Linked DNA regions of Homo sapiens. The gene in region 1 interacts genetically with each later gene. Each region holds a gene or a part of one and is shown in the gene's direction. Other genes may lie near its edges. The genes, in order: ATG7, LETM1, NRBF2, NOL10, VAPA, IARS1 and WASHC4.

Evidence for each region.
Region 2: of ATG7 (region 1) and LETM1, changing one enhances a phenotype caused by changing the other (phenotypic enhancement), as found in Homo sapiens cells (one large-scale study listed by BioGRID).
Region 3: of ATG7 (region 1) and NRBF2, changing one enhances a phenotype caused by changing the other (phenotypic enhancement), as found in Homo sapiens cells (one large-scale study listed by BioGRID).
Region 4: of ATG7 (region 1) and NOL10, changing one suppresses a phenotype caused by changing the other (phenotypic suppression), as found in Homo sapiens cells (one large-scale study listed by BioGRID).
Region 5: of ATG7 (region 1) and VAPA, changing one enhances a phenotype caused by changing the other (phenotypic enhancement), as found in Homo sapiens cells (one large-scale study listed by BioGRID).
Region 6: of ATG7 (region 1) and IARS1, changing one suppresses a phenotype caused by changing the other (phenotypic suppression), as found in Homo sapiens cells (one large-scale study listed by BioGRID).
Region 7: of ATG7 (region 1) and WASHC4, changing one enhances a phenotype caused by changing the other (phenotypic enhancement), as found in Homo sapiens cells (one large-scale study listed by BioGRID).

The regions. Positions count from the first base shown.
Region 1 is NC_000003.12:11,309,574-11,314,260, forward strand, and holds part of ATG7 (ubiquitin-like modifier-activating enzyme ATG7), read left to right. Parts: intron 1-3,730; coding exon 3,731-3,847; intron 3,848-4,687. UniProt on the Homo sapiens protein: E1-like activating enzyme involved in the 2 ubiquitin-like systems required for cytoplasm to vacuole transport (Cvt) and autophagy.
Region 2 is NC_000004.12:1,817,532-1,822,218, reverse strand, and holds part of LETM1 (mitochondrial proton/calcium exchanger protein precursor), read left to right. Parts: coding exon 1-38; intron 39-2,746; coding exon 2,747-2,881; intron 2,882-4,687. UniProt on the Homo sapiens protein: Plays an important role in maintenance of mitochondrial morphology and in mediating either calcium or potassium/proton antiport. Mediates proton-dependent calcium efflux from mitochondrion.
Region 3 is NC_000010.11:63,149,688-63,153,472, forward strand, and holds part of NRBF2 (nuclear receptor-binding factor 2), read left to right. Parts: intron 1-540; exon of another isoform or gene 541-669; intron 670-2,462; coding exon 2,463-2,503; intron 2,504-3,785. UniProt on the Homo sapiens protein: May modulate transcriptional activation by target nuclear receptors. Can act as transcriptional activator (in vitro). Involved in starvation-induced autophagy probably by its association with PI3K complex I (PI3KC3-C1).
Region 4 is NC_000002.12:10,588,492-10,593,178, reverse strand, and holds part of NOL10 (nucleolar protein 10), read left to right. Parts: intron 1-3,427; coding exon 3,428-3,601; intron 3,602-3,888; coding exon 3,889-4,136; intron 4,137-4,687.
Region 5 is NC_000018.10:9,933,984-9,938,670, forward strand, and holds part of VAPA (vesicle-associated membrane protein-associated protein A), read left to right. Parts: intron 1-2,126; coding exon 2,127-2,230; intron 2,231-3,002; coding exon 3,003-3,083; intron 3,084-4,687. UniProt on the Homo sapiens protein: Endoplasmic reticulum (ER)-anchored protein that mediates the formation of contact sites between the ER and endosomes via interaction with FFAT motif-containing proteins such as STARD3 or WDR44.
Region 6 is NC_000009.12:92,244,546-92,249,232, reverse strand, and holds part of IARS1 (isoleucine--tRNA ligase, cytoplasmic), read left to right. Parts: intron 1-1,681; coding exon 1,682-1,856; intron 1,857-4,161; coding exon 4,162-4,274; intron 4,275-4,687. UniProt on the Homo sapiens protein: Catalyzes the specific attachment of an amino acid to its cognate tRNA in a 2 step reaction: the amino acid (AA) is first activated by ATP to form AA-AMP and then transferred to the acceptor end of the tRNA.
Region 7 is NC_000012.12:105,166,731-105,170,817, forward strand, and holds the end of WASHC4 (WASH complex subunit 4), read left to right. Parts: intron 1-133; coding exon 134-201; 3' UTR 202-2,400; downstream 2,401-4,087. UniProt on the Homo sapiens protein: Acts as a component of the WASH core complex that functions as a nucleation-promoting factor (NPF) at the surface of endosomes, where it recruits and activates the Arp2/3 complex to induce actin polymerization, playing a key role in the fission of tubules that serve as transport intermediates during endosome sorting.

The DNA.
Region 1 (4,687 bases):
AAGAAGGGGTAGGATGTAGATGGAAGGACCTGGCCTTGGTGAGGGAAAAGTAGGGAAAAGGTAAGGGTCGATTATAGAGATACCAGCTATGCATGCATGCGCGTGTGTGCGTACACACACACACAGATACCAGTTATACACAGGCACGTGCACACACACAGCAACACACAGATGTGTGTATATATATCTGTGTATATAAAACTAATTTATATCCTTTATTATTATATTGACTATATAACATTCTGTCAAATGTATGTTTCATAGATTCCTGTTATATATTTAGGTGGTTTCTAATATTCACTGTTATAAAAAATGCTAGTCTGGGCACAGTGGCTCATGCTTGTAATACCAGCACTTTGGGAGGCTGAGGCAGGTGGATCACTTGAGGCCAAGAGTTTGAGACCAGCCTGGGCAACACCTTGTCACTTCAAAAAATATAAAAATTAGCTGGGTGTGGTGGCGCCTGCCTGTGGTTCCAGCTACTGGGGAGCTGAGGTGGGAGGATCATCTGAGCCTGGGAGATTGAGGCTGCAGCATGCCATGATTGCACCACTGCACTCCAGCCTGGACAACAGAGTGAGACCCTGTCTCAAAAAAAAAAAAATACTGTGGTATATTGAAAAATATATAATATTAGCCATATTGATCTTTTCTCCTGCTCATTTTACTTCTTTAGAATAAGTTCTTTGGAGCGGGCATATAAACACAGTAATGTTGCTGTGTATTAAGTGTGCTGTTTCACCACAGCATCATCAGCTTTGGACATTAATCCTCTTTCCCACTTCTTTTTTTGGCAAGTTTTCCTTCCCCGACCTCCCACCGTTCCTCCTAGATTCCTAGATGCAGGGGAGGCCTCTGATTTATTGCCCAAGGCAAAGGAGGGTATGATAGCAATCAAACAAGGCCAGTGGGTGGCTATCTACAAGGAACACATTTTCTAACAAGTTATAATGCTTTCTATGTAATAGTGGAGGAGAGAGAAAAATGTTTAAATTTTTTGTCTGATTACTTGGCTCAGTTTGGCATTAATAATCTGTCTATACGTTTGGGTAATTCTGTAGTTTTTTTTTTTTTTTTGAGACGGAGTCTCGCTCTGTCACCCAGGCTGGAGTGCAATGGTGCGATGTCGGCTCACTGCAAGCTCTGCCTCCCAGGTTCATGCCATTCTCCTGCCTCAGCCTCCTGAGTAGCCGGGACTACAGGCACCCACCACCACACCCGGCTAATTTTTTGTATTTTTAGTAGAGAGGGGGTTTCACCGTGTTAGCCAGGATGGTCTTGATCTCCTGACCTCGTGATCCGCCCGCCTCGGCCTCCCAAAGTGCTGGGATTACAGGCATGAGCCACCGCATGCAGCCTGTAGGCTCTTTACTGGGATAAATTGTAAGCATTGCTAGTTAAAGATTTCTAGTTACTTGAACGTCAGTACGCTTTCTGTACCAAGAATTCTCATAGTAGAACATGCTGACAGTTTGCATTTAATGAGAAAAATAACATTAGCTCTTACTTAAAGTTTTAAGGTTTGCCTAGAGTCAGTATGTGTGTTGGTCTTGCTGCCTTGTTTACTGAGCATTCTTAGCCTGACTTAAAAAAAATTGTAAGTATCTACTTTTTAAAATCTTCAGACACCAAGGACTTTATGTTTAATTTAATGGAGGTCATTTCTATCCTGAAAAGAATCCTAAGAAATGCAAGCTTTTTGACTTTTGAAAATGACCTGATAAAGTTTCTTAGAATTCGTGAGGTCCGGCCGGGTGCAGTGGTTCATGCCTGTAATTCTAGCGATTTGGGAGGCCGAGGTAGGCGGATTGCCTGAGCTCAGGAGTTTGAGACCAGCTTGGGCAACATAGTTAAACCCCGTATCTACTAAAATTAAAAAAAAAAATTAGCTGTGCATGGCAGCCTGTAGTCCCAACTACTCGGGAGGCTGAGGCAGAAGAATTGCTTGAACCTGGGAGGTGGAGGTTGCAGTGAGCTGAGATCGTCGTGCCGTTGCACTCCAGCCTGTGTGACAGAGCAAGACTGTCTCCAAAAAAAAAAAAAAAAAGATTTTGTGAGTTTCTTCATCTTGAATTGTTTAACCTTTTACTAAATATCGGTTATGACAAATCATTTAAGTACAAAGAAGAGAAAATAATCTCTGGAGGTGTTTTTGCTTTCCTTCTGCTGTTTTTTAGGACTCATAGGACTAGACAGTTCATTAATTTCAGCTTTGCAGTTCATTTTGCCATTGTGAAGAGGGAATTTTTTCTTAGTTGATCAATGAATAGCAGAATTAGAGACCGCAGAGATTACAATTATTAGACTTTCTCATCTGTACACATGATTACATATACATTTACATTTTAAAACTCATCTAGTATGATTTCATTTATATGAAAAGTCCAGACTAGGAAAATCCACAGAGACAGAAAATAGATTAGTGGTTGCCAGGGGATGAGAAGAGGGGGAATGGGGAGTCTCTGCTAATATGTATGAGATTTCTTTTTGGAGTGATGAAAATATTCTGGAATTAATAGTGATGATGGTACAACCATATCACTATACTAAAAAGAAACCACTAAATTGTATACTTTTTAACATGGTGAATTTTATGGAACGTAAATTATATCTCAATAAAAAGTCATCTAACAACCATCCAATTTTAATTCTTAGCAAGATTCAAGAAGAAATATTAATTAGCTACATAAACTGCATTCATATTCAGTGGTCACAGGCTTGTAGGCAAGCTGCCAAATACCCACATATGTCTGGAATGCTACCATGAATTTAATTAAGGCCCCAAAAGCTGTAAGAATTCTGAAGCAAGAGCCATTAGCGTGAGTGGGAACAGTGTCAAAGACAGCCTCACAAATCCTTTCCCCTGGATCTCCTACCCTGGTGGGGGATCGGTCAGATATACCCGTGAAGATGTAACCTCTTCTATTCACCCATCCAGCTTACTACTTAGAGCCTCTCCATGGCTCTAATCATGCACTCGCTTTATCTCTGCTCTGTCCACAAAGTGAGCTGCCTGGTGTCTGGGACTGGGGTTTATTCATCTTATTGTCAGTGTCTTATGTTTTGCCTTGTACATAGCAAGGGCTTGATAGTTGTTGACTTAAATCCACTAAGCCATTTACAAAAGCAATATTGTATTATTTCAGGCATGCATACATATGTGAATAGCACAGCTTCCTTAATAACATGTAATTTATTTGATTGTGAAGAGAATGGTAACTGTTTGGAAGTTGTGCTTCTGTAGATAGTACATTAAGTATCTATGGTCAGTGGAAAAAAGCTTAAGTTTTGGAAGCAGAGTTCTGATCTCTTCTCTGCCCCTTGCCATCTTTTTTGTTGTTGTTTAGGTTTTTTACCCCTTTGTAAGATTCAGTTTTCTGTTTATAAAATGGGATAATAGTAAATACCTCCCAGGGGGGTTTTGTAGGTTAAAGGATGATGATGATAATATCAATTACATATTGCACATTTTCTGTTAGCAAGTGGTCAATAAAGTATATTATGTTTGTCATCATATTATTAGTGGTGGTATATGAGACTATTTTGGGAATACAAAAGTCCTTTATTTGATCATGAGTTCTGTTGGGGATGAGGATATTTGATAAGCTGGACAGACTTTGTTTGCATAGCTTTGCTATCTTAATTGGCCTTGAGAAGCTACATTAATAGATGCATTTCACCTTAAGTTAATGGTGCTATTCTAATAACTTATTTATACTTTTTTTTCTAGGATCTAAAGAAGTACCACTTCTACTATTGGTTTTGCTATCCTGCCCTCTGTCTTCCAGAGAGTTTACCTCTCATTCAGGGGCCAGTGGGTTTGGATCAAAGGTTTTCACTAAAACAGGTATCAACAAATAACCAAAATGCACATAAAATTGGGTTGAATGTGCAAGAGTAGTTATGTAGTTCTTTCCAAAGACAAACAGGCACTTCTCTGGATGAAGACGTGGTAACTGAAATCCTCCAAAGGTGGTACTAGGAGCAGACTTATTTAGAAAATGTTTGTAAAGTCATTTTTTTGTATATATATTTATATATGTTTTGAGACTGGGTCTCACCCCCATTACGCAGGCTGGAGTGCAGTGGCACGATCACTGCTCACTGTAGCTTCAACTTCTCAGGCTCAGGTGATCCTCTCATCTCAGCCTCCTGAGCACCTGGGACTACAGGCATCCCATCACACCTGGCTAATGTTTGTCTTTTAATAGATATGGGGTTTTGCCATGTTGGCCAGGCTGGTCTTCAACACCTGGGCTCAAGCAATCTGTCCACCTCAGCCTCCCAAAGTGCTGGGATTACAGGCATGAGCCACCCTGCCTGGTCTGTAAAGTCATTTTGAAGATGTAGTGCACAGTAATTTTCCAGGTTTTCAGTGGTATTTGGTGAAATGCTAAGCCAGTAAGGGGGAATTATAGGAATATTTTGAAACACTGAAAGAATTTACCAAAATGTGGTCTTCATTTTCAATGTGGGGAAACATAAGGCAGTATAGTCTGGGAAAGAGTCTTTGAAACAAAACAGAAGGCATTCTCCTACCCTTGTACCAAGTTGCAGAACTTTTCTACCTGGAGCAGTACATGCAGAGTTAGTCGGTGACATTTGGGATAGATAATAAGTTCATTAGAGATGGTTCCCAGAAGAGCAGTTAAAATAATCAGGCTGGTATAACAGAGACCCTAAACTA
Region 2 (4,687 bases), on another chromosome or scaffold:
CCTTGAAGGACACTGCCCCGGTGCTGGAGGGCTTGAAGGTAATGAGGCAGGTTCTGGGGCCCTGGAGGCTGAGGAGGGCATGGCCTGGCTTTGTGGACAGTTGTGGGGCAGGGATGGGGACAGGTTAGCTGGGGCATCTATAGCCCTCAGTGAGAGGAGATGGTGCAAGGGGTTGAGGATGAGGCCACTGGGCCCCTAGGAGGCTTGGTGGTTAGGAAAAGAGTGAGTCCGGCCGGGCTCCGCACTGTGCCTGGGTGCACAGCAGCTGACGCTGCCGTGAACTTAGCACCCTGGCCCACAGTGTGGCAGGTAGAGATGCCAGTCGGCAGGTTTCAGGGCCCTTTGCCAGCTTGCCCAGACAGTGAAGGGGTGTGGAAGCCAATGTGGCCCCTCAAGGTAGAGCCTCCTCCACAGGCCCAACCTGCTGTCACCTCCTGTGGGGTGATCTGGGCTTGGAGCATCTTCAGACTCCCCATGCGAGCCTGTGAGGTGCAGCCTCCAGGCGCCTGTGCTGCCTACCTGGGGCGCCTCCTGGTACCTTCCATCTTGAACTCGCGGGCTGAAGTGCAGTGGCGCCATCTCGGCTCAGTGCAGTCTCAGCCTCCCAGGTTCAAGCAACTCTTCTGCCTCAGCCTCCCAATATCTGGGAGTACAGGCGTGCACCACCAGACCCAGCAAATTTTTGTATTTTTAGTAGACAGGGGGTTTCACCATGTTAGCCAGGCTGGTCTCAAACCCCTGACCTCAAGTGATCTTCCCGCCTCAGCCTCCCAAAGTGCTAGGATTACAGGTGTGAGCCACCACACCCAGCCATAAAAAAAAAATTTGGCCAGGCGCAGTGGCTCACGCCTGTAATCCCAGCATTTTGGGAGGCCGAGGTGGGCGGATCACGGGGTCAGGAGATCGAGACCATCCTGGCTAACATGGTGAAACCCCATTTCTACTAAAAATACAAAAAATTAGCCAGACATGGTGGCATGCACCTGTAGTCCCAGCTACTCAGGAGGCTGAAACAGGAGAATGGTGTGAACCTGGGAGGCAGAGCTTGCAGTGGGTGACAGAGTGAGACTCTGTCTCAAAAAAAAAAAAAAAAAATTTCACTTTTTAGCAAATCAAATAGAACTATTCTGTAAAAAGAATCATGATCACATGGGATTTGTCCAAAAAATGCAAATTGGCTTGAATTTTTTTTCTTTTGAGGTGGGATCTCACTCTGTTGCCCAGTCTGCAGTGCAGACATGACCTTGGCTCACTGAAGACTTGACCTCCCAGGCTCAAGTGATTCTCCTGCCTCAGCCTCCCGAGTAGCTGGGATTATAGGTGCCCACCACCACACCCAGCTAATTGTTGTATTTTTAGTAGAGATGGGGTTTCACCATGTTGGCCAGGCTGGTCTCGAACTCCTGACCTCAAGTGATCCTCCCACCTCGACCTCCCAAAGTGCTGGGTTTACAGGCTTGAGCCACTGTGCCTGGCCAAAATTTTTAAAATGTAATTTCCATATTAACAGACTAAATTAGAAAAGCTGGGAATGTTTATCTTGGTAGCTGCAGAAAGAGCCTGTGGCAGAACCCAGTATCTGTTCCTGATATGCAGATGTCCTGCACATGCAGGCAGCTTTCTCAGCCCAATCAAAAGCATCTGCAGAAACACCTCCAGCTGCCGTCACCCTCAGTGGTGAGACGCTGATGAGGTTGTCTGTCCTCACTCTGAGCTCAGCATCAGCTTGGGGGTTTCAGTCAGGGCAGTTGAATACAGAAAACAAAACCATATAGATCAGAAAGGAAAAAGGAAAACTCTTTATTCACAAATGGTGTGAACAATCAATTGTGCTTCACTATGGTAATGAGTAGTCAGAGAAGGTTTGAACAGTATGGCACCCCCCAAAATGAACTACTTAGGGATAAATTTGGAAAAAGATATGCAAGTGCTGTCCACGGAGTACTGTAAAATGTTGCTGAGGGAAAGAAAAACCAAACAGAGAGGCTGGGCGCGGGGCCCACACCTGTGATATCAGCACTGTGGGAAGCCGAGGTGGGAGGATCGTCTGAGTCCAGGAGTTTGAGACCAGCCTGGGCAACATAGTGAGACGCCGTCTTTACAAAAAATAAAAAGTTGGACAGATATGTCAGTGTGTGCCTGTAGTCCCAGCTCCTGGGGAGGCTGAGGCAGGAGATTGCTTGAGCTTGGGAGATCAAGCCTGCAGCAAGCCATGATTGCACCACTGCCCTCCAGCCTGGGCAACAGAGTGAGACCCTGTCTCAAAAAACAAGACAAGAAACACACGACCACAGGGGCAAATCTCAAAATAAGTGAGTGAGAGAAGTCAGACAAAAAGAGTGCTTGCTGGATGATCCGTCTATCTAAGATGCTAGAAAGTGCACCCGAGTCTGCAGTGGCAGGACCTGAGGTTGCCTGGGGGTCGGTGGCGGGACCCAGTGGGGGCACAAAGATGCATTTGGAGGTGACTCTTTGACTGTAGTGAAGTTTCACAGTACACGTGTCAATTCATAGATGACGCGCTTTAAACAAATGGGGTTTGGCATATGAGGGCAGACAGTGACTGCGTGCAGCAGCCAGCGCAGCAGTGAACCTGAACCCCGCGGGTCTCTTGTTACCAATGACTGTCCAGTGAGACTCTTGCCCTGGGCTGCCCGTATAATATGAACAGAGCAGCTGGTCACTTGGGAACAGGCCAGTTCTTTCCCTTGGCTCAGGCTTTGTTGTTTGCCCATTTTTATCCCAGGAGGAAGAGATCACGAAGGAGGAAATCGACATCCTCAGCGATGCCTGCTCTAAGCTGCAGGAGCAGAAGAAGTCACTCACCAAGGAGAAGGAGGAGCTGGAGCTGCTGAAGGAGGATGTGCAGGACTACAGCGAGGTGGGTGGGATTTGCTCCCTGGACTCTGAGACTGCAAGAAGAGTAAAATCGCTGTACTGGCCCCAAAAGTATACATAATACTTCCGTCAGATACTTGATAAGCTGGCCAAAGAGTATTTGGAGAGGAAAGCACGTTATAAATAAACCTTATTCAGTAACCTTTCCACAGCCATTCCGGCTGGACCAATCCTCTGTAATGTGGCTGTGTGCCGTTCTGGCCACAGATGTGTGTGCACCTTTTTTTTTTTTTTTTTGTAAGAAGGTCTTGCTCTGTTGCCCAGGCCAGAGTGCAGTGGCACAATTTCAGCTCATTGCAACCTCCACCTCCTGGGTTCAAGCAATTCTTGTGCCTCAGCCTCCCGAGTGGATGAGACTGTAAACATGTGCCACCATGCCCAGCTCAATTTTTTGTATTTTTAGTAGAGACGGGGTTTCACCATGTTGACCAGGCTCATCTCGAACTCCTGGCCCCAGGTGACCGACCTGCCTCGCCCTCTCAAAGTGCTGGGATTACAGGCGTGGCCACCGTGCCTGGCCACATCTTTTAGTTTCTAAACATGGGAAGGTGTCTCATGAAGAGTTTGGTCACTTGACGAGATCTTATTCATGATTACGTGAAAGTGGCTTTTTTCTTTTCTTCCATGGTGGTTTGTTTCCCTTTTTTTGTAAATATTACTTCCTAATAACGATTTTTTTTCTTTCTTTCTTTCTTTTTTTCTTTTTTTGAGACGAAGTCTAGCTCTGTCGCCCAGGCTGGAGTGCAGTGGCGTGATCTCGACTCACTGCAACTTCCGCCTCCTGGGTTCAAATGATTCTTCTGCCTCAGCCTCCTGAGTAGCTGGGACTACAGGCATGTGCCACCATGCCTGGCTAATTTTTTGTATTTTTAGTAGAGACAGGGTTTCACCATGTTGACCAGGCTGGTCTCGAACTCCTGACCTCATGATCCACCCGCCTCAGCCTCCCAAAGTGCTGGGATTACAAACATGAGCCACTGTGCCCGGCCCCTAATACGATTTTTTAAAAACTGTTTTCATAGCTCTGTTGGGAATGATAACTGATTTTTCAATTGGCAAAAATAATTGGCCATTTCTAGATTTATGACAGCCCTCATGCCATGTGGGTTCTCCACTGGATGTGAGGTGCTTATCACCAGCTCAGCCTGTTCCTTCCCTCCCCTCCCCTCGCCTTCCCCATTCTTCCTCATGGTGTTTACTCGTGGGAAAAAAACAACTTGGAATTTAAAAAGACACTTAAGGCTGGGCACTGGTGGCTCAGGCCTGTAATCCCAGCACTTTGGGAGGTCAAGGCAGGAGGATCACTTGAGCTCAGGAGTTTGAGACCGGCCTGGGCAACATGGTGAAACACCATTTCTGCAAAAAATACAAAAATTAGCCAGGCATGATGTTGTGTGCCTGTACTCCCAGCTACTCCAGAGACTGAGGCAGGAGGATTGCTTGGGAGTGGGAGGCTGGGAGTTGGAGGCTGCAGTGAGCTGAGATCATGCCACTTTACTCCAGTCTGGGTGACAGAGCAAGACCCTATCTCAAAAAACAAAGACACTTAATTTCCTTGATTAATTAGTTCACTTAATTTTTCTTTAACAAATGTGAAGGAAATTGAGATTCAGAATAGATTCTATGTCTTTTGCTTGCAAGGCAGTGTACAAAAATAAGAAATTTGTATGATAGAAATACAATTTTATAACTCTCTGGTTTGAATTAATGGGTTTAATTACCTTTACAAGTTAATTTATTACCTTTTTTTGTTGTTGTTTGAGATAGGGTCTCGCTCTGTCACTCAGGC
Region 3 (3,785 bases), on another chromosome or scaffold:
AATTCTTTGTGCTTTGGGATATCCTTCTGTAACCTCCTTTGTCATATACAATTTCAAGGTTCTACAAAGGGTGGCATTTCAGTTGGCTAAAGCTTGGTTTTGTGAAAACTATTGTTTGTTAAGAAAGTGGATTTAAAGCAAACTATAGTTCAAACAGGGAGACAAATATATGCAGGCAAGATGGAAGAGATGTCTAAGAAAATGTGTCTACAGTGTATCAGAGCGGTAGCAGAGCAGTTAGAATGTCTCCACAGATTTTTTTTTTTTTTTTTGAAACGGAGTCTTGCTCTGTTACCCAGGCTGGAGTGCAGTGGCGTGATCTCGGCTCAGTGCAACCTCCACCTCATGGGTTCAAGCGATTCTCCTGCCTCAGCTTCCCTAGTAGCTGGGATTACAGGTGCCTGCCACCACGCCCAGCTAATTTTTGTATTTTTTTTTTTTTTTAGTAGAGACGGGGTTTCACCATGCTGGCCAGGCTGGTCTCGAACTCCCGACCTCAGGCGATCCACCAGCCTCAGCCTCCCAAAGTGCTAGGATTACAGGTGTGAGCCACCACACCCGGCCGTCTTCACAGATTTAAACATGAACAAAAGGAAAAGAAATAGTATGCAGCTGTACAGACATACTACAGGAAAAAAAGACAAGGGTTGTGGGAAGGATGTAATTATGGTAAGCATAGCTGGAGCAAAGACTGTATAACCAACTCTGTTTTTTCTTTCCTTTTTTTTTTTTAAATTCTTTTTAAATTGATACAGGGTCCCGCTATGTTACCCAGTCTAGTCTTGAACTCCTGGGCTCAGGCAGTCCTCCTGTTTGGCCTCCCAAAGTGCTAGCCACTGCGCCTGGCTCCAACTCTTCTTTTTCTTGGAAAGGGAGCATCTAATTCAGCAGTCCCAACCTTTTTGCTGCCAGGGACTGGTTTTGTGGAAGTCAATTTTCCATAGACCTGGGGTCAGGAAAATGGTTTTTGGATGATTCAAGCACATTACATTTATTGTACACTTTATATTTTACAATGTAATAATAGAAATAAATAATTATACAACTCAACATAATGTAGAATCAGTGGGAGCCCTGAGCTTGTTTTCCTGCAGCTAGACAGTCTCATCTAGGGGTGATGGGAGACAGCGACAGATCATCAGGTATTAGATTATCATAAGGAGAGTGCAACCTAGATCCCTTGCTTGTGCAGTTTGCAGTAGGGTTTGTGCTATGAGAAGCTAATGCCGCTGCTGATCTGATGGGAGGCAGAACTCAGGCGGTAATGCAAGCAATGGGGAGTGGCTGTAAATACAGATGAAACTTCACTGGCTTGCCTGCTGCTCACTTCCTGCTGTCTGTGTGGCCCAGTTCCTAACAAGACATAGACCAGTACCGGCCTGGGGGTTTGGGACCCCTGATATAATTGTATCTTAAAGACTGTGGTAGAACCTAGCAGGCAAGAACTCTTAAGTTATGACATCAAAGCATTAAATTATTTGGATTAAGACTGGACAGAAAGCAATGCCTCGTAGTATCTGCAAAAGGGCAAAAGAGGAACTTAATGTAGGTATGAGAGATGCCAAAAATGTTTATAACAAGCAAGATAAAAATGGAGATTCATTATGGACAATTCATTGATAATAGAGAACTTATTTATACCTAACCTTGTTCCCGAAAGGTTATAAAATGTCTTACAGATGAATGTACAATAAAATATCGAATGTAATTAAAGATACATAGATAAGGACATCCATAGAGAAAATGAGAAAGGACTAGTAGTGTAGTTCACAAAATGTACCATTAGTTCTTGCATATTTTTTTAAGAACTTGACTTAAGTTTTCTAGCAGTCATCCTAAAGAGGAAAGATAATAATTTTTACATTGGCTATTAAAATTCAAACAAATAGTCACCGAGGATCTAAGATCAGAGAGAAGTTTATTGAAGGTCTTCATAAATGACATTATACTGTCCTCAGTAACTTCCTCGCAGTAAATATGTCAACAAGTTCTTAGGGCTTTTAACCATAAGGCTGATGGTTTAACTCAGAGACAATTCATTAAAAGTGATTCTATAGGAGTCCAAAATGATAGATTCCAGGTATTCAGACGGATAAAAAGTCATTGATAATCTCATGATATTTTTGTGAGTATGATGAGTAATAGGGTTTGGATAGGTTCTTGTTTGATTTTTATCTTTCCTAAACCTATTTTTCTGATTAGACCATCTTCAGTTTCTGAATTATAAAATCTGTAGGAGTTTTAAATAACAAAACCTTCAAGATAGGGTAGGGAATATTTTCATTTTATTGCCACTGACATCCTTTTGGGGGAAGTTAAGAATTCTTTTAAAAAATCCCCAATTGTATCAGAGTTATCAGACCAGTTCTCTTTGTCATATGAAGATTATTAAAACTCTTCCTTTTACCTGTTAATTACAAAATGAAGACACATATTAACATGCCTATTTTTTCTCTTAACAGCATATCTTTCTGAAGCCATGAAGCTGACACAGTCAGAGCAGGTGAGACATATTCCCAATATTTGCGACAAGGGTTAGAAAGGTTTTCTTGTGGAGGCTTGAATTGTGTGTAAAGCAAAGCATTGTGTCCCTCTCAAAATGCTATAGTCAAAAATATATAAAATGGGCAAGGGAAGAGCACTTCACAACGGAAATTAAAACTAAATGAACTGCAGTCGATGCCCCAGACATGGAATGCAGAAACTTCTTTTTTTCTAGTGGTTACTCACAGATCTCAGATTGCCAGCCAGATGTACCTTTTAGAGAGCCCTCTTCGGACCATTCCTAATCATTAGCTCTTATTTGATCATTAGCTTACAGTCAGTAAACAGGCCTGGCCAAGAGGAAACTAGTTGGACCACCCTTTGCTTGTCAAAGATAATTTAAATCTGACCAGTCTCCCACTTGTCTTTGCTTGAATTCTTAAGCAGTTCAGGCACTTTTAAATTTGTTTCACCAATTGCTTTAAATTGTCTTCTGTGTTTGGGGAGGCCCTGCCAAGTGTTTCAAGATACATTTATTCATAAGACTGGGCATGGTGGCCCATGCCTGTAATCCCAGCACTTTGGGAGGCCAAGGCAGGGGGATCACTTGAGCCCAGGAGTTCGAGACCAGCCTTGGCAACACAGTGAGACCCCATCTCTACAAAAACTTAAAAAATTAGCTGGGCGTGGTGGCACATGCCTGTAGTTCTAGCTACTTGGGAGGTTGAGGTGAGAGGATCACTGAACACCTGAGTCCAAGGCTGCAGTGAGCTATGACTGCGCCATTGCACTTCAGCCTCAGCAACAGGGACCCTGTCTCTAAAATAAATATATATAAAATATCTTTTTAAAAACTTTTTGTTATAAAAGTATTAGTTAAAGAGATCATTTCTGTGAGGTATATCAGTGGCAGGGAAAGCCACTAGTTTCTCAAACTGAACCAAGGGAACTTTAAAGTTGTGTTCTATCCCTTTCACTGCCTTTGAAAGTATAGAATCTGCTCATGATACAGGCATGCATTGAGTTATCCAAACACGCGGTTGATAGGAAGACTTTCTTTTTAGCTGTTGGTAGAATTAATATGTCTACAGAGGAAAGATTTCTAATTTTGAGTACAAATGACATTACACATGGGGTCAGGCACATTGAGGAAAACATCCAATTTAGTGTATTGATTGGGAATAGGACTTCTGACTTTCTGAATGGTATTTTTGCAAACATAGTAAATTGTAAATTGTAAGTGTTGGGTTATTCACAAAGGATTTTGAATAGTGTATGTTGGACATTACTAAGATACTTAA
Region 4 (4,687 bases), on another chromosome or scaffold:
TGACAGAGCAAGACCCCATCTCAAAAGAAAAAAAAGAAAAAAAAAAAAACTAATTTGTTTCAAATGGCAATCATTCTTCATATATGTTACTATGTTGGAACAAAATAATAATAGGCGTCCCACTCAGGTAGACAGATACCATTCTTCCAGGTAGGACTGTGGTATGAATAGTACTTTAATGTTTTCTATATTTTAATGGTAAAGTTGAGCATGTGTAGACGGGTATTTATAGGACGGATCACTAGCCAGACACTTGTAAGCTCCTATAGAACATTAATAGCTATACCTTATCCTACTTTTTTCCTTAAGACAGCTGTGAAAACAAACAGACTAGGAAAAAACCCTGAGGGAAATATTTTTACAAGCTGGGTCAGAAGAGGTTTTATTTTATAGTTGTTCATCCAAAGCATACTTGTCTTTAGGCAATGCAATTGATTTGTTTTAAATTAAGAAAAAAATCTTAATACCAGCAACATATGTAGTCTTTGTAACATTTTCTCTATTTATTAAATATGATTATTACTTTAATAAATATAGTAAGATGAAAAGTAAATATTTGCCCTTGGGTTTTTTTAACCTGAAAATGTGTAATAGGCACATAGTTATTCATTTGAAATTATCTTTCACACTATCATCTATCCGATATCTACAGATAACTCCAAAATTTACATCATAGCCCCCTCCCTTCTCCTGAGACATGGCGCATCGTTCCCAGACACCTAGTGGTGTCCGTCTGAATCCTGGTGCTCTTCTCCCTGTGCCACAGGCATAGGCAGCCCTAAATGGAGCGTGATTTCTTCCCCTTTACTCCACCCCTGCGTTTTTTCCTAATGCTCTCCAGTGATGGATTCTAACTCAGTGTCGCCAGCTTTCTGGTTGCTTAAGCTACATGTTTGAGAGAAGTTTCTAACCCTGTTTTTAATTCTTAACCCTCCCATCTCCATAGCTGGATCTGTCAATTCTAATTTAGAACTGTATCTCGTAATTATTCTTTCTTAAAAACTGTCTGTTCCCATTGCCCTAATTCAGGCCCTGTCTCTCTTGCCAGTTTCTTAAAATGGCTTCTTAGTCTTCTCATGATGCTAACTTCTTACTCAGCAGTCCGTCAGACATCAGGCTGCTGCAGACTTTTGAAGCACAATTTTGGGTTGGTTTGTTTGTTTGTTTGTTTGTTTGTTTGTGACAAGGTCTCTCTGTTACGCAGGCTGGAGTACATGGTGTGATCTCAACTCACTGCAGCCCTGACTTCCCAGGCTCAAGCGATCCTCCTACCTCAGCCTTCCAAGTAGCTGGGACTACAGGCATGCACCACCACGCCTGACTAATTTTTTATATTTTGTATAGACAGCGTCTCACCATGTTGCCCAGGCTGGTCTTGAACTTCTGGCCTCAAGCAGTCCTCCCACCTCAGCCTCCCAAAGTGCTGAGATTGCAGGCATGAACCACCACCTGGCCAGTTCTGTCATCTGGGAGTCTTGAAGCACACTTCTGTTGATCATCCATCTTCTCCTTCCTCCCTCCTTCCCTGTCTCCCTCCTTCGTTTCTCTTCCTTTTTCTCTTCCTCTTCTTCCTCCCCCTCCTCCTCTTCGCTAGTGGTTTCCCCTTATATCTTCAAAATAACAGTCATGGTATTTAAAATCCTTTACAGTATGACCCAATCAAAAAATTGTTTTGAAATTGCATCATTCTTATGTCGCCAGACTATTCACCACTCCCATCGGCTGGAAATGCTGTTTCTTCAGATTTCTACTTGTTGAAACCTACTCATCTTTCAAGCCCCCTCCCTGATGCTGCACCCCCCAGGGCCCCTCCTGGGGTGTCTTTTGTTGGGATTCCTTTTTCTGTCCTCTCCTGTGGCACTTTCAGCACTACCGAGCAGCCCTCAGAAGAGGCCTAGTAGCACGTGTTTGCAGTGTTTTTTCTTCCTTACTAGTTTAGGATCAGGAACTCGATCTTACCTTTCTTTTTCCCTTCGTTGTAAGTCTTTCTTGGAAATGATGTTTAATCAGGGAAACTTGCTGCATTTAATATCTTAGAATTTTAGGTAAGGGTTTATCTGTTTTTAGGTACATACAAATAATAAACAGGCCAAGTTCCTTAATATCTTATGATTTACTAAACTTTTGTATAGGTCTGTCACACAAATAATATTCAGAACTCAACTGCCTGCAATCTTGTTTACTCTCAACAGTGGAGAAATAGTAAAGTAGTCTGTTCAGCAGAGTCAGAGTCCATCACAAACAGGTCAGCTTTTTCCAGCAGTGTTCAGGGCTGTTTACTCTGATTGACAAACAATTCTGAGTAAGCCGTTTCATCTGGCTTCCAAGCCTGTAGCAGAGAAGGAACAATAAGACAGTCCTAAATGTGTAAGATTCTCTGTCATCTACTTAAGTGAACAGGTAAGTTTACAGTACAGTTTAGAAAACTTTCCATTGAAAATGGTACAAATAAAAAGGAATTTAGTATCAGTCCTGAGCTATCTAAATGGGTCTCAGTAGCCAAAGTTTTTGTATCTGAAGGATACACAATATCCTTTGACAACAATTAGTTGACCTGAGGGGGAATATTGATGAAACAACCCTGTAGGGGATGGAAACGTCCCTTCTGTTTCCCAGTAACTCAGCTGGAATCGGTAAACTGACATCACCAGCTTCCTGCATCCCACCATGTGAGTTACTGACTTTGTATACCTCCTCTCCCAGTTTTGGAATCTGAAGTTGAAAGAATTGCTTATTTTAAGTCAGTGTAGTAACTAAGCTTTATTTAAAAGCCCTGTTTTCAGTGGCTCATGCCTGTAATCCCAGTACTATGGGAGGCCAAGGCACGAGAAATTGCTTGAGCCCAAGAATTCAAGACCATCCTGGGCAACATAGTGAGACCCATCTCTACAAAAAATAAAAAATTAGCCGGGTGCGGTGGTGCACCTGTGGTCCCAGCTACTTGGGAGCCTGACTGAGGTGGGAGGATCACTTGAGCCCAGGAGGTTGGGGCTGCAGTGAGCTGTGATTGTGCCACTGCACTCCAGCCTGGAGTGAGACCGTATCTCTAAAAAATAATAAAAGCCACTTTTTAAAAACCTAGTATCTTCTTGAAAGGTGTTTTTTTGCATTAAAATGTTAATTGAAGAAATTCTTTCTAATCTGTTAAGCATAAAGTTAGCCAAAAGGGTCATTCTTGGCTCATTGTGTGTAATGGCCAAGTGGTGTAGAGCATCTGCAAAGTAGATTAATAGAGGTTGTTTTGGTGGTGGCAGCTAAAACCTAGGGGCACGTTGAAAGTCCTGGAAGAAATTTCATAATGAGTTAATAATGTATGCCTCATGCCGCTTATTAACTTATAATAGAATCAGTGTTTTAAAACCATGTTTCTGGTCAAATTTTAGTCAGATATTAACTTAAATTTTTACGTACTTTTTCCTCCTTGTAGAGTCTTCCTAATATTCTCACCGATGATCGATTTAAAGTTATGTTTGAGAACCCTGACTTCCAAGTAGATGAAGAGAGTGAAGAATTTAGGCTTCTGAATCCACTTGTTTCAAAAATTAGTGAAAAAAGGAAGAAGAAACTAAGACTCTTAGAGCAACAAGAACTTCGTGAAAAAGTAATGTACTCCTTATCAGTTAGAATTTGCTACTGTTTCTTTAATGTAATGTTTTCTTTGTAAGTTAGAAGAGTCTTTGATTATACTTGAGATGTAATTAATTCCATATTAAGTGTTTGACATTGGGCTTAGGAGTATTATCTTATTTATTTAAAGGCATTTCTCCTGATGCATGCAGTAGAGCAGCTGTTAGGCACTCATTAATGGGCCAGTGCTGCTTCAGAGAAACCAAGGGGTCTGTGTTTGACTGGGGGAAAGGAGTTGCTGCTTACTATTTTTATTCTCAGGAAGAGGAGGAAGAGCCGGAAGGAAAACCAAGTGATGCAGAAAGTTCGGAGAGTTCAGATGATGAAAAAGCCTGGGTTGAAGAGGTCAGGAAGCAACGCAGACTCCTCCAGCAGGAGGAAAAAGTGAAGCGGCAGGAACGACTCAAGGAGGACCAGCAGACAGTCCTAAAGCCCCAGTTTTATGAGATCAAAGCAGGAGAAGAATTTAGAAGCTTCAAAGATTCTGCCACAAAGCAGAAACTGATGAAGTGAGTAGCACTGCCTGAGCGCACAGTTGACATGTAACCAAGCCCTTGCTTTTCCTCTCTGGCACATTGCCCTAAAGATGACATTTCTGTCTTTGGATGATGGAGGTGCAGAGGGTGGAGGGGACGAGGGAAGCAGGGGAGGTAAGGCCGTGCAGGAGGTGATGTGAGGGAAGCACCCAGGAGGCCTGAGGGGAGCGTCGCTATTGAAGTACATTGGTCTCTAGGGGATTTACTTATTTGTCACAACTTTTTGAGGTATAGTTTACATGCAGTAAAATACAGGGTAGAGAGAGCCTTATGAGTATCAGTGGAACACTTTTAAGCTGCAGAAGCCACACACTTTCCTTGTCCTTGTTTTTTCCCCATGGGGTTCCCTCACCTACAAATACTTACTCTGTGCCCTACAGATCAGTGGTTTGAAGCCTTTTGGACAGTGGTTGCTAGGAGATGACAACTTTTCTGCTTCTTCACAAAGTTATTTTAAAAAATTAGAACCTCGGTTATGTTTACCCCATCTCACTTTACCTGGTTATTGAAAAGGTTACTTGGAA
Region 5 (4,687 bases), on another chromosome or scaffold:
GAAAACAACGTATCAAAACACTTTCTCCCACAGAAACCTGACTTATTAAAACCTTCAGACAAACTGGTTACTGATTACGCAAACATGCCCTTGGATTGTTCTACTTAATTAGAATTTGGCTTTTCCAGTTTTTAGTGTAGTGTATTTCCATTTACAGTCACTCAAAGCTATGCTTCTTCCAACAACCTTCTCTGGTTAATTCTCTGTACTACATGCTCATTTCTCTTTTTCCCTGTGTCCTTTTGACGCTTTGTTTTTTGAATTTGCTTCAATTTGTGCACATTTTTATATATGTTTTCAAGATCGTCTTTGTCTTGTTATGTGGTCTGCAACCTAAATTAGAGTATAACTCCTATAAACTTAACCATGTTGTAAGTTTTCGTTTTATTCACAAATTTTTGGTTCATAGTGATTAGCTTATAATCATTAACTCAGTGAAGGTTGCTAATGGAATTTTATTTAGCTTAAGCTGTATTCTGAGGCATTTTATCCAGTACATTTCCTGCTGCTGTGTATTTGGCCCCTTGAAAAAGTTGTCTTAACCTTGATAGCAGTTAATGGACTTCTCAGACACACCTTATGAATAAGACTTTATTACATAATTATTTCTTACATTTATTTACCCGTGTTTATCTTTTTGAAAGTGTAGAGATATATCTTAGAAATAATCTAAAGTTAGGGAAATAATTTCTATAATGCCATGTACATATTTTGTGTAACTGTTGATTGATTCTTTGTATAGTCTGTTATATTGGACTCATGTTACATAAATTTAGCATGACTTACAACCACATGGAACCTTAGAAAACTTAAAAGACGAGAAATTATAAATGCTTAAAAATTGCTCACGCCTGTAATCCCAGCACTTTGGGAGGCTGAGACGGGCGGATCTTGAGGTCAGGAGATCGAGACCATCCTGGATAACACGGTGAAACCCCGTCTCTACTAAAAATACAAAAAAATTAGCCGGGCATGGTGGCAGGCGCCTGTAGTCCCAGCTACTCGGGAGGCTGAGGCAGGAGAATGGCGTGAACCTGGGAGGCAGAGCTTGCAGTGAGCCGAGATTGTACCGCTGCACTCCAGCCTGGGCGACAGAGCAAGACTCCGTCTCAAAAAAAAAAAAAAAAAAACTTAAAAATTTTGAATGTTATTGAGACTGTAGAATAAATTTTAGAACTCAAGAGGCTATATGGTTTCCTTGTGTACTTTTGTTTTCTTAGAAGATTTAAATAAATTCATAAACTCTGAAATAGATGTTTATTTAAAATACAATTTTGAAAAATTAATTATATTAAAACAATATATGGGCTGGGTGCTGTGGCTTACGCCTGTAATCCTAGCACTTCGGGAGGCTGAGGAGGGCGGATCTCTTGAGCCCAGGAATTCTATACCAGCCTGGGCAAAATGACGAAAACCCTTTCTCTACAAAAAAATACAAAAATTAGCTGGGCATGGTGGCATGTGGCTATAGTCTTAGCTATTTAGGAGCCTGAAGTGGGAGGATTGCCTGAGCCTAGGGAGGTTGAGGCTACAGTGAGCTGAGATTGCGCCACTGCACTGCAGCGCAGCCTCAGCCACAGAGTGAGACCCTGTTTTAAAAAACAAAAAACAGATGGTAGTGAGGTTTTAAGTTACTGAGTATTTCTCCTTTAAATATCTCAGTTGTATAATTTTAAATCAGAAAACACTAAAATGAAGCCTAAATTCATAGTTTTAATAACTTATATTTAATCTGAGCTTATAGGCATTATAGTTAACGTTGGCAAAGTTTTGAAAATTTTCACAAGCTGAGTTTAGAAAGGGCAAAATCATAGATTCATATTTAATTTTTAATTGTAATTGTTTATTTTGTTGGTTGTGCAAAACTTAGTAAATTAGAAAGACAGACAATTTAAAAATACTTGGGATCCATTAAGTTGATTCTTAAACATTCCAGTGTTTGGTTTCTTGAACCCTTCTTGGTTTTTTTTAAATTTGCATATTTGTGAAGTAGTAGGAATGATACTATTGCCAGATACGGTTTAAGGCAAATCCCAGACTTAGTATAATTTAATCTGTAACTGTTTCAATGTATGTCTTTCAGACATGCAGGAGACAATATAATATATCCTTTTTTTCTTATTTAGTAATGCTACAGCCCTTTGACTATGATCCGAATGAAAAGAGTAAACACAAGTTTATGGTACAGACAATTTTTGCTCCACCAAACACTTCAGATATGGAAGCTGTGGTAAGTATAGAAGAAGAATTTGTTTTGGGAAGTGGAGTTTAAACTGTGGGTGTTGTTTAGCAGTCAGTAGAAAAACTTAATTTCTAAAAACTAAAAGTTAAATTTAGGTTTTTAAAAAACTGCCAATTTCTTCATTATAGATAATCCTAACTTAAAGAATGAAAGAATTTTTAAATAGTATTTTTTTTTAGAAACAATTTAGAAATGCTGCTACTGGCCTGGTGCAGTGGCTCACACCTGTAATCCCAGCCCTTTGGGAGGCCAAGATGGGAGTATCTCAAGCCCAGGAGTTCGAGACCAGCTCAGGCGACATGACAAGACCCTGTCTCTACAAAAACAAACAAACAAACAAACAAAAAACAAAAAAAACCACCACAACAAAAATGAGCTGGGTATAGTGTTGGACGCCTGTAGTCCCAGCTACCCAGGAGGCATGGGAGGATTGATTGCTTGAGCCCAGGAGGGGCGACTGCACTCCAGCCTGGGAAACAGAATGAGACCAACTGGAAAAAAAGAAAGAAATGCTAAGAAGAAAGTCCTATGGTTGCTAGTAATATCATCGTGATTTTAATGGATGGTGATAGTAACTAGGATTATATAAAGGTTCTGTGACATTAGCCGATAACAATGGCAGGGTGATCAATAAAGAGTGCACCAGTGTGTTTCAGCCAAGCCAGGCAGCTTCACTCATCTTTTAGCTGTCCCGTGAGGTGAAACTTACTTACCATGATCATACCTCCTATGTCTCATGTTTGGTTTTGTTTATTTTTAGTGGAAAGAGGCAAAACCTGATGAATTAATGGATTCCAAATTGAGATGCGTATTTGAAATGCCCAATGAAAATGATAAATTGGTAAGTAGGAGAATGTAAAAAAAATTGGGAGCTGTTGAGCTCTCAGTTCCTTTGATTAATTTTGCTTTTATTTTTGACCTTTGAGGTATGTGTGATATGGCTATTACACTTCATAAGACTCAGTGGTTAAGTTTTAAAAAACTTGGTATGCCTTTTTTTTTTTTTTTTTTAAAGTAACATTTTGTTTATCCAAGAAGAAAGAAAGACTCACTTTTAGGTCAAGACTGCATCCTGGAGAAGAATCATTTAAGTCTACCAGATTTTTTGTGACGTAAACCACTGCAGGTTCTTTTTTAGAATGAGATGTGTATACATAATTTAAAAATACATATAAATTGCTTTTTGGCCACTATGTACCGGCAGTTTGGGGATAAATTCACTTACATGGACAGTTTATTCCAGGTTTAGTTATTCCTAGGTATTTTGCTCACTTTTGTTTTTAGTCAAATCCATCTGATTGTATTCTTTAGTAAATAATTATTATGTTGCTTACTCATTAGTGTAAGTCTAATACAATTTGGGGGACTGAGGGATGTATTTGTTTATTCAAAAACAAACAAAAAATAGTCTGTGAATGTACCGAGTGGGTTGTAGTCACTTACCTTGTCCATTTCCCTGTCTGGATTGCAAATTTGAATCTTTTCCTATGGTGAGAGAGACTTGAAAGATAAATTTTTCTGTGTGTGTATGTGACTTAATACATACAATAATATGGATAAATAGAATGGTGTGGCACAATTTGGTTACAATCTGACATGACTACTGCCTTAATCTAGTGGCCATTTGCTCTATTGAAAAGTAAACATGCAGATTAAATATGTGGGCTCAGTTATTGTGTTCCTCTTTCAGGATAAGCAGAAATGAAAAGGTCTCTGGTAATTAGGTGTTGACCAAATTATATTTTGAATTTTTAAAATGCCTCTTTTAAGTGATTTTTGAGGTATTTGCCAAAAGCAAAAAATTGTGAACACATGTATTCTCTGTGGAAAGTGAGTGTTAGATGGCCTGTGTATGCTTCCCATTTGGAGGTTTTCTTTTTTGCTTAGGCGGAGGGAAGCTAATAGCTTGCCCAGCTCTTACTGTTGAAACCAAGAAAACAAAACAGCATGTTGTCTGGATTGACTTTTTAAAAAAAAATTTGGATATTTTCTCACTGAGAGTTTTATGTCATTTTTTACAGTAATTCGGTCAGCGTAAATCTATCTTCTATCTGGGCTTCTACTGTGCTCTGGATAGCACACACTTTGAGATGTGTGAAAAGGATTGGAACCCCAGGTATTTGATACTGCTGATTAAGAGTAGCTCTCACTGGTTTAGAAACCAAACCAGAAGTTGATGGGAATGATACGGCAATGACAGTTGAACCTCGCCATTTACACATCTTGGGTGAAAAGAGCAGTTATGCCTACCTATTGGTCTAGCCCATAGTTATCCAAGAAAGTAGTTTTGGGTCTGTTTTAGCGCTTGAACAAATACTGAATGGAGTTCCCAGAATCCCCTGCGGTGGAACTCGAGCAGGAGTAGTTTGAGCCTGGAACCTTTTCAGAGCAGGTATTACTAGTAACCTAAAAGCTGTTAAGTAACTTCAAAGTACTTTAGAGAAT
Region 6 (4,687 bases), on another chromosome or scaffold:
GTTCCTCCAAATTATGCAAGTGACAAGTACCCTCGCATGTAAAAAGTCGAAGCAATAGCATAGGGAGCCTCTCTCCACCCCATTTCTCCCTGGAGTCTCACTTCCTGGCTGCTTCATAATTTATTTAATTACTGTCCCGTTGTTTGACATTTAGGTTTCTGATTACAAACAAAAGCTTTGTGTGTACATATATGCATATATCAGTGTATGGATATTGGATAGATTCCAGAAGTGGAGTTTTGGGGTCAAAGTTTATAGTGTCAGTTGTCTTCCTAAACATTTTTATTCCATGATATTTTAAAACATCTTTATTCCATGATGTTTTAAAAACGCATATGTTTTACCTCATCTTCTTTGTGATGATAGAAAACAAATATTTTTTAAAATTTCATTGTTTATTCTTTTCACAGGTGATATTTAAAATCATTATTATAGAAAATGTTAATTTCTATATTTGGTTTTCAGTTGCTTGAAAGTTGCAGAGAAATATTAGAAACCAAAAGTTAGATTTTAAATTCTGACATTAGTACCTGTGGCTATGCATAAAATAGAAATTTTTTTTTTTTTTTTTTTTTTTTTTGTGACAGGGTCTCGCTCTGTCACCCAGGCTGGAGTGCAGTGATGTGATCTTGGCTCACTACAGCCTCCATCTCCTGGGCTCGGGCAATCCTCCCACCTCAGCCTCCCAAGTGGCGGAGATTAGGCATAGTAGTACAGGCTTTTGTAGAGATGGGGTTTTGCCATGTTGCCCGGGCTGGTCTCTAACTCCTGAGCTCAAGTGATCCTCCCACCTCGATCTCCCGAAGTGCTAAGATTACAAGTTTGCGCCACCACACCCAGCTGAAAAATTTTGAAATTAACTACTTCACTTAAAATGAGATTAATTAATGTAGCTAAATATAATGGCAAAACTAAACATTCCGTATTATTTGCTTCAAGCTGTTCTCATTTTCCCATCCGCTACTGTGCCATCACCATCCCTGCCGCATCAGTAATCCTCAGTAGCATGACTGAAGCATGAAGTGTTCTGTTTAACTGATCTTCTGCTTAGTTAATAGTTAACCTTGTGGTACTCTGCAATTGCTTGCACAAAGGTTACCTCTGAGGGATGAGGTTTATATTTCTGGGTCTGGAGTCCTTTTTCTGTTATGCTCAACTGTCTTGATAGATCTTCATAACAAGCATTTTCTTCTTACCATACAAATCACTGGTTTTTAAGCATATTTATAGAATGGTACAACTATCACCATAGTTTTAGAACATTTTCCTCGTCCCAGAAAGAAAGCCAGTATTCATTAACATTCACAAACCATTTTCCCCTCAATATCTGACCATTTCCTGGCATCCACGAACCTATTTGCTATCTCTGGATTTGCCTTCTCTGGACATTTCATATAAGTGGAATCATACAATTTGTAATCTTTATGTCTGGCGTGTTTCACCTAGCATAATGTTTCACATTAATTTATGTTGTAGCACATATGAGTGCTTCAGTCCTTCATATTGCCAAATACTCTATTGCATGTGTATGCTGCATTTTGTTTATCCATTCACAGTTGATGGACACTTGAAGTGTTCTTGCTTTCTGGCAGTTAGGAATAATGCTGCTGTGGACCTACATTTTTGTGTGAACATATGTTTTCATTTCTCATTTTTGTTTCCTCTTGTGCATTAACTGTAGGAACTCAATGTTCGAAAAGTTACACTGTCTACAGATAAAAACAAGTATGGCATTCGGCTAAGGGCAGAACCAGATCACATGGTCCTGGGGAAGCGTCTGAAGGGAGCCTTTAAGGCAGTGATGACGTCCATCAAGCAGTTGAGCAGTGAGGAGCTGGAGCAGTTCCAGAAGACTGGTAGGTGTCTACACAGACAAGGGCACCATTTATGTCCTGAGTCTGAGGGATACTTTTTAGGCTACTGTTTGACTTTTAATATCACATCCTTTCCTTTCCTGTCCTGTCGTGTCCCGTCGTGTCCTGTCCTTTCCTTTCCTTTCCTTACTCTCTTCTCTTTTCTCTCTTCTCTCTTCTCTTTTCTTGACAGAATCTCGCTCTGTCATCCATCCTGGAGCACAGTGGCGCGATCTTGGCTCACTGCAACCTCTGCCTCCCAGGTTCAAGTGATTCTCCTGCCTCAGCCTCCCAAGTAGCTGGGATTACAGGCACGTAGTACCATGCCTGGCTAATTTTTGTATTTTTGGTAGAAACAGGGTTTCACCATGTTGGCCAGGCTGGTCTCTAACTCCTGACCTCAGGTGATCCACCCGCCTTCGGTCCCCCAAATTGCTGGGATTACAGGTGTGTGCCACTGCACCGGTCCATCCTTTTCTTAAGTAAAACTTTTTTTCCTGTTGATAAAAATGTTTATTATAAATAATTCTTACAGTTTAGAAAGAAAATAGCTGGGCACAGAGGCTCACATCTGTAATCCCAGCGGCTCACATCTGTAATCCCAGCATTTTGGGAGGCCCAGTTGGATAGATCACTTGAGATCACTACAGGCACATACTACCACACTTAGCCAGATGTGGTGGTATGTGCCTGCCATCCCAGTTACTCTGGAGGCTGAGGTGGGAGGATCCCTGGAGCCTAGGGTGATTTTGTCCTTACTTTCATGGTGCTTGCTGACATTGAAGATTTGGGAAAATAATTATGGTTTTGATAAGTGTTATAAAGGGAAGGTGTAGGGTAACATAAAAACATGTGGGGGTACCTAACCAAATGATGGGATTAGGAAAGGGAAATCAGCCCCATCTTGCTACCCCTATACAGAGCATTTCAGGGTGCCCAGAAATTTGCAGCTCTGCCATGATTAGAATCATACATGGTCTGAGTGTGGCTGTCTGACATCCTGTAACTATCCTGGGGCACAAGCTGTTTATTGTTACGGCTTCCTCTGAAGTTGAAAATCATAAGCTAGGAGATGTCTTGAGAAGAGAGATTTGAGGATTCATAAATCAGATGGGGGAACTGTCCCTAAGATTCTCCAAATATTTAGATAGAATTAATAAAACATAAGACATCAGCAGCTAAACCTCAAGTTATTACTAATTACTAATCAACTCAAAATATTAAAATAACAAAGTGTTACGAGCCTTCAAGCCACAAATCTAAATTGTTCGCCAGATAGCCAAAGCATCAAAAATTCCTGAGATGGCTGGGGGTGGTGACTCATGCCTGTAATCCCAGCACTTTGGGAGGCCGAGGCGGGCAGATCACGAAATCAGGAGATTGAGACTGTCCTGGCTAACACGGTGAAACCCCGTCTCTGCTAAAAACACACACACACACACAAAATTAGCCAGGTGTGGTGGCAGGCGCCTGTAGTTCCAGCTACTCAGGAGACTGAGGCCGGGGAATGGCGTGAACCCAGGAGGCAGAGCTTGCAGTGAGCCGAGATCCTGCCACTGCACTGCAGCCTGGGTGACAAAGCAAGACTCTGTCTCAAAAAAAAAAAAAAAATTCCTGGGCTAAACCTTATTTGAAATTGAAAGCCTAGTTTCTGAGCGTACTGTTCTGCACTGATGGAAAACAAGATCATCTTCAGAACACAGAGACAAAGTAAACATAAAAATGACACCCGGGTGCTCAGAGCCCAAGAAGGTCATCATCAGTGACAACAGTGGGCCTCCCTATCAGCGGGGGTGTTAACATCAGCAGCTGTTCACATTTCTGCCTCCCCTGAACAGGCATGATGCTCAGTACTACACACTGCCCGTCTCATTTTAGCCTCACCACACCTTGCTCAGCAGGTAGCAGAACACCATGTCATACAACCAGCAAATAGTGGACCTAAGTTCACTTTCTCTTTAAAGACTGTATTTTCTTCATGACATCCTGCTGCTCTGTGTTTATGGTGAGCATTTGTTGCCTCTTGGTGCCTTCCCTTAGCTTTGTCATGTCTTTGGACCTGAGAGTTTATATAAAACAGTAGATACTGGTGATGACTTAACTGTCTTCAAGGTAGCATAGTGTAATCTAAAGAAAGTTTGTCATGTCTTGGCTACAACCATGACATGAGTCAGAGGGAAATGATCTCTTGAAGCCTCTGTGGCTTTGTTATTGTGAAATTTTAATCAAGAAGGGGCATAATACACGGGTAGTGGGGCAGCTTGAAGAGGAGGGGAAGCTGATTAACAGTGTAGCTGCTTCTCCATAGGGACCATTGTTGTGGAAGGCCATGAATTGCACGATGAAGACATCCGCCTCATGTACACCTTTGATCAGGCCACAGGTGGGACTGCGCAATTTGAAGCACACTCAGATGCTCAGGTATTTTTCTGTTTCCTAGAACATTTCTTTACCAAGAGATGAGAGCATAAGAGGAGAAAGTATTTGCCTGTGCCTTTCCTGATAATGTTGACAGCTTGTCTCAGGGTAAAATAAACCAGTTACTTGGTTTAGATTGGCTTTATTAAACTAATATATTATTATGCCCTTAACATATGCATTTGTTTAGTGAATACATAAGTAAGCATTTTGTGATTTCTACATGTCAGTCATTGTCCCAAGTGTGGGGTTGCACAAAAATGAACCCTTCAAGGAATGAGTCAGTCAAGGACACCTGAAATTAAGCCAGTTCTTAGTATTCTACCTGATAAGTTATCTGGTAGAAATAAGTACACAGAGGGCTCCTATCCAAAAATAGGTGTAGGGTGAAAAGTGGTCAGGGAACACTCTTTTCA
Region 7 (4,087 bases), on another chromosome or scaffold:
AGAGAAACATTTGATGGATGCAACTGTAATTTGAAGTTTGGCAATACAGCTCTTCTCAAATTTCTTTTACTTCTTAATTTATTGTTTAAAAATGAACATAAATATCCATTATTATTTTCACTCATGCTTTCAGAAGAAACTAAAACAAGCAATGGAGACCTGTCTGACAGCACTGTGTCTGCTGATCCTGTTGTGAAATGATACGGATGGTATTCACTGCACATATGATGAAATCATCAGAATTGTTAAAACTTTTGCCAGTGGAATGGATAAACTATTGATGAATTGTTTCCTGGGTCACATCTCTGGAAAATAGATGTTACAGTTCTTAAAGGCAGTGCTTTAAAGTGAAGTTCATTCTGTTTCCAAAGGCTCTACTTTCAAAGGTTAAGAATGAGATTTTAAAATTGGATTTTTGCCTGGACTTGAGGGTACAAGATGTTTCTATTTGAAGTGAAGTTATAAAAGGGCAAATCCAGATTCATAAACTATCACCTCGGATTTCTTGTAATCTACATGTTTGTAATTTGTATTTGCATAGATCTTTGATCTATAGTTATTTCAAGTCATGGGAAATTCAATGCATATACTATATACAGCCAGTAAATACATGCTTAACAAAAGGAATGAGCCTGAAGTTCATAAAGAATACATATCAATATTCTTATAAAAGGAATATATGAAGATGGCTTTGATACTAGAGGTGAGGCACAAGTGTTTTATGTACTCTCAGTGTACAGTATAACTGATGATCCTTCTTTCATTGTTAATTTCATGTGACTCACAAGAGCTGCTGATGTCTTTGATGAGACATTTTATAACTAGTTTACATTGCTTTGAGAACATTTAACCTCCAACAGCTGCTTTAAATTTAAGATTTACTTAATACTCAGAAAATTCAGATAAAGCCATAGAGTCCTGTTTGAAGCTTCACTTCTATTTTGGTTGAAGGCATGATGTATGATGTCAGAAAAAAAATTGAATGAATTATTTCTACATCCAAACTCAGGTTTCTTCTACATTAGATTGAATTGAAATTTTGGTGATGGTTTGGGTAGACTTTTTTTTTATATCAAGTATAATTTAAAACATCAGATTAAATAATTACACTGTTCAGGCTTTTAAAAAAATACCACTGTGAGAATAAAGCGCTAGCAAGATACATCACTTACTGATTTTAAAAATACAGAAAGATTTTGAGTAAATTTTGTGCCCAGCAAGCTGTTAGTTTTATTTTTGTAAAGGTATGTAAGTTATTAAATGGTTAATCATGGCCTTTTAAAAATAAAATAAAGTGATACCTTTACAATGAAGACAAAAGTTTAAAACTTTCTAATACAAACACCATTTTGGGAAATGCTTGATTTTTTTCTATTGCATTTGTCTGCTAAACATTTCTTTGGATAAATCCTGCAAATACTTCTAACATTATTCTTTGATTCCAGCTTTTAGAATGGGTGTACAATGCCCTGTTTGTACTTACTGGTTAGGGTCAGGGTAACTTGCCAGCCCAAGATAAATACTTTAATTGTTAAAAGTCAGAAGAGACAGAATATGTAGGAAATGTTTTTTGTTTATTATGTAAACATGGCTTACAGAATTATGAACAGTGGATAGATTAAAGGCATTTAATATTTGTAATTCATAATAACTGTAGAAATGGCCCTAAAGCATGCTGCATAATTAATAATTTATATTTTCATTATTATAAGTGTTTATATTAATGATCTTGCATTTGATTATATCAAATTCGTCATTTCATAGCAACAGTATTGTTTTCTCTGTTTTTCTTCTCTAACTTCTCTGAAATCATCTCCTATTAAGGGATAGAAATTGTTACTAGAAGAGAATCACATGTTCTGTGTTCATTATCCCTACACATGTAAATTAATTATTTTATCAATACTAGATAGAGTTCACATGCTGACTCCCTGGATACCTACAGTTGAGAAGAAAATGACAGACAATTATTTTTCCTTTAGGTCAAAATAATGTCACTGCTATCTGGATAAATTATAAGTTCATATATTTGAAATAAGATCCTGGAAACGAATTTAAATGGTGTCAAACTGCAGAGCAACAGGGCTTCAGTATATTCACATCTAATAGGTTAATATGTACATTTGGATGATGATTTTTCTTGATAACATTAACATTAATTTTATTTTTTCAGACATACTGTAATTTAAAAATTAATGTGAGCGTTTGTTTTAAGTTCACAGAAAACTTAATAATTCAAATTCTCAGGAATTAAGGACTCACCATAACATTGTCAGTTCTAATGAAATTTTGTAAAAGATGGCAAGTTTGTTACCTCACTTGAGTGGGGTTTTCCTTTTCCCCCAATTCTAAGAGAATATAATGTGTATACTAAAACATTAATAAACATAATTTTGAAAATTTCCTTCCCCTGGATGTTTATGTTCAAAATTGAATGTCGTAAACCAGTAGTTCTTAATATTAACCTTTTTGGGGTCCCCCTTAATTGAATGAAATGAAATCTGTGGAATCATTTTTTTATAAAATGCATGCACATAGGTAAAAATTTGAAGTTTAAAATTGGCTCCTGTCAATGTATTCCAGGTGAAAGAAAGGTGTTTTCTTTCCTTTATACATCCTTGATCTTTCCAGAGCTTTTTTCCAATAAAAAGAACCAATATGAAGTTACTTTAAATCCTAATCCTGGAAAGGGATTATCAGTATGCATTGTTTAATGTTAGTAATAACTATAGTGCTATTTGCAAACCTGAGTTGAACTAAAACAATACAGTAGTCTCCCCTTATCCGTGTTTTACTTTCCAGTTTCAGTTACCTGTGGTCAGCTGTGGTCTGAAAATATTACATGGAAAATTCCAGAAACAATAAGTTTCAACTTGTGTGTTATTCTGGGTAGCATGATGAAATCTTGTGCTGTCATGCTGCATCCCGCCTGGGACGTAAGTCACCCCTTTGCCCAGCATCTTCATGCTGTATGTGCTACCTGCCCATGAATCACTTGGTAGCTAGGTTGTCAAATCAATAGTGTTTGTCTTCAAGTAAGCCTTATTTTACTTAATAATGGCCCCAAAGTGCAAGAGTAGTGACGCTGGCAATTCAGATATGCTATAAGAGAAGCCTTAAAATGCATCCTTTAAGTGAAAACATGAAAGTTCTCAATAAGGAAAGAAAAGAAATCATATGTGGGGTTGCTAAGATCTGTGGTAAGAATGAATCTTCTCTCCGCAGCATTGGTGACAGTATTTGTTACAGTTATGTTTCATCATTAGTTATTGTTAATCTCTTACTGTGCCTAACTTATAAACTTTATCATAGGCATGTATATATAGGAAAAAACCGTATATATACGGTTAGATACTATCTGCAGTTTCAGGCATGCACTGGGCGTTTTGGTGTATCCCTCTCAGATAAGCAGGGACTACAGTAATGACAACAGAGCCTTCAAAATATTACACTGGAGACGAGGTACAATCCTGTTAAATACTACACTGCAGAAATCATTCTTGGTAAAGTTAAGTCTGGTTGCTGTTCCTTTTTTCTTCTGAGGCAGTAAATTTGTAAAATTGTGGGAAAGATGAGAAAATATTGGATACTTCATGTTATTATTTTATGCTGAGTCTGCTAAATGTAAAAGGTAGGCTTTAATTGATTTTAATAATTGTAACAGGATTTTCTTTCCAGCTTCACATTGCAGATGTTTCAGAAGACGGTATTCGTTTTTTAAGGGAAGTTTTAATACCACATTTTTTTTTTAACAAAGGCTTTCAGATGTTAGGAATACTTTAATAGGCTGTCAAAGATGTGAAGTTTAAAAAGGGAATCCAGAATAAGTGGAAATCTGTAGAGACTAAGCAAAGGCAGTGAACTCAAGAGATGGTGATGGCAAAGTTAGAGTTCAGTTTATAACACAGGTCAGCATATATATAATGTATAAGAAAAGTTGGGCAAGTAAGTATTTTCTTTTCAGTAGTTTGGCTCCTCTTTACCACTCAGTTCACCTGATACCTCCATTTCCCATTAGTGGAGATATACTCAGGAATGTACATCAAATTTATTCAGTCGATGCAGATCTGATACCATAATTCTTGGA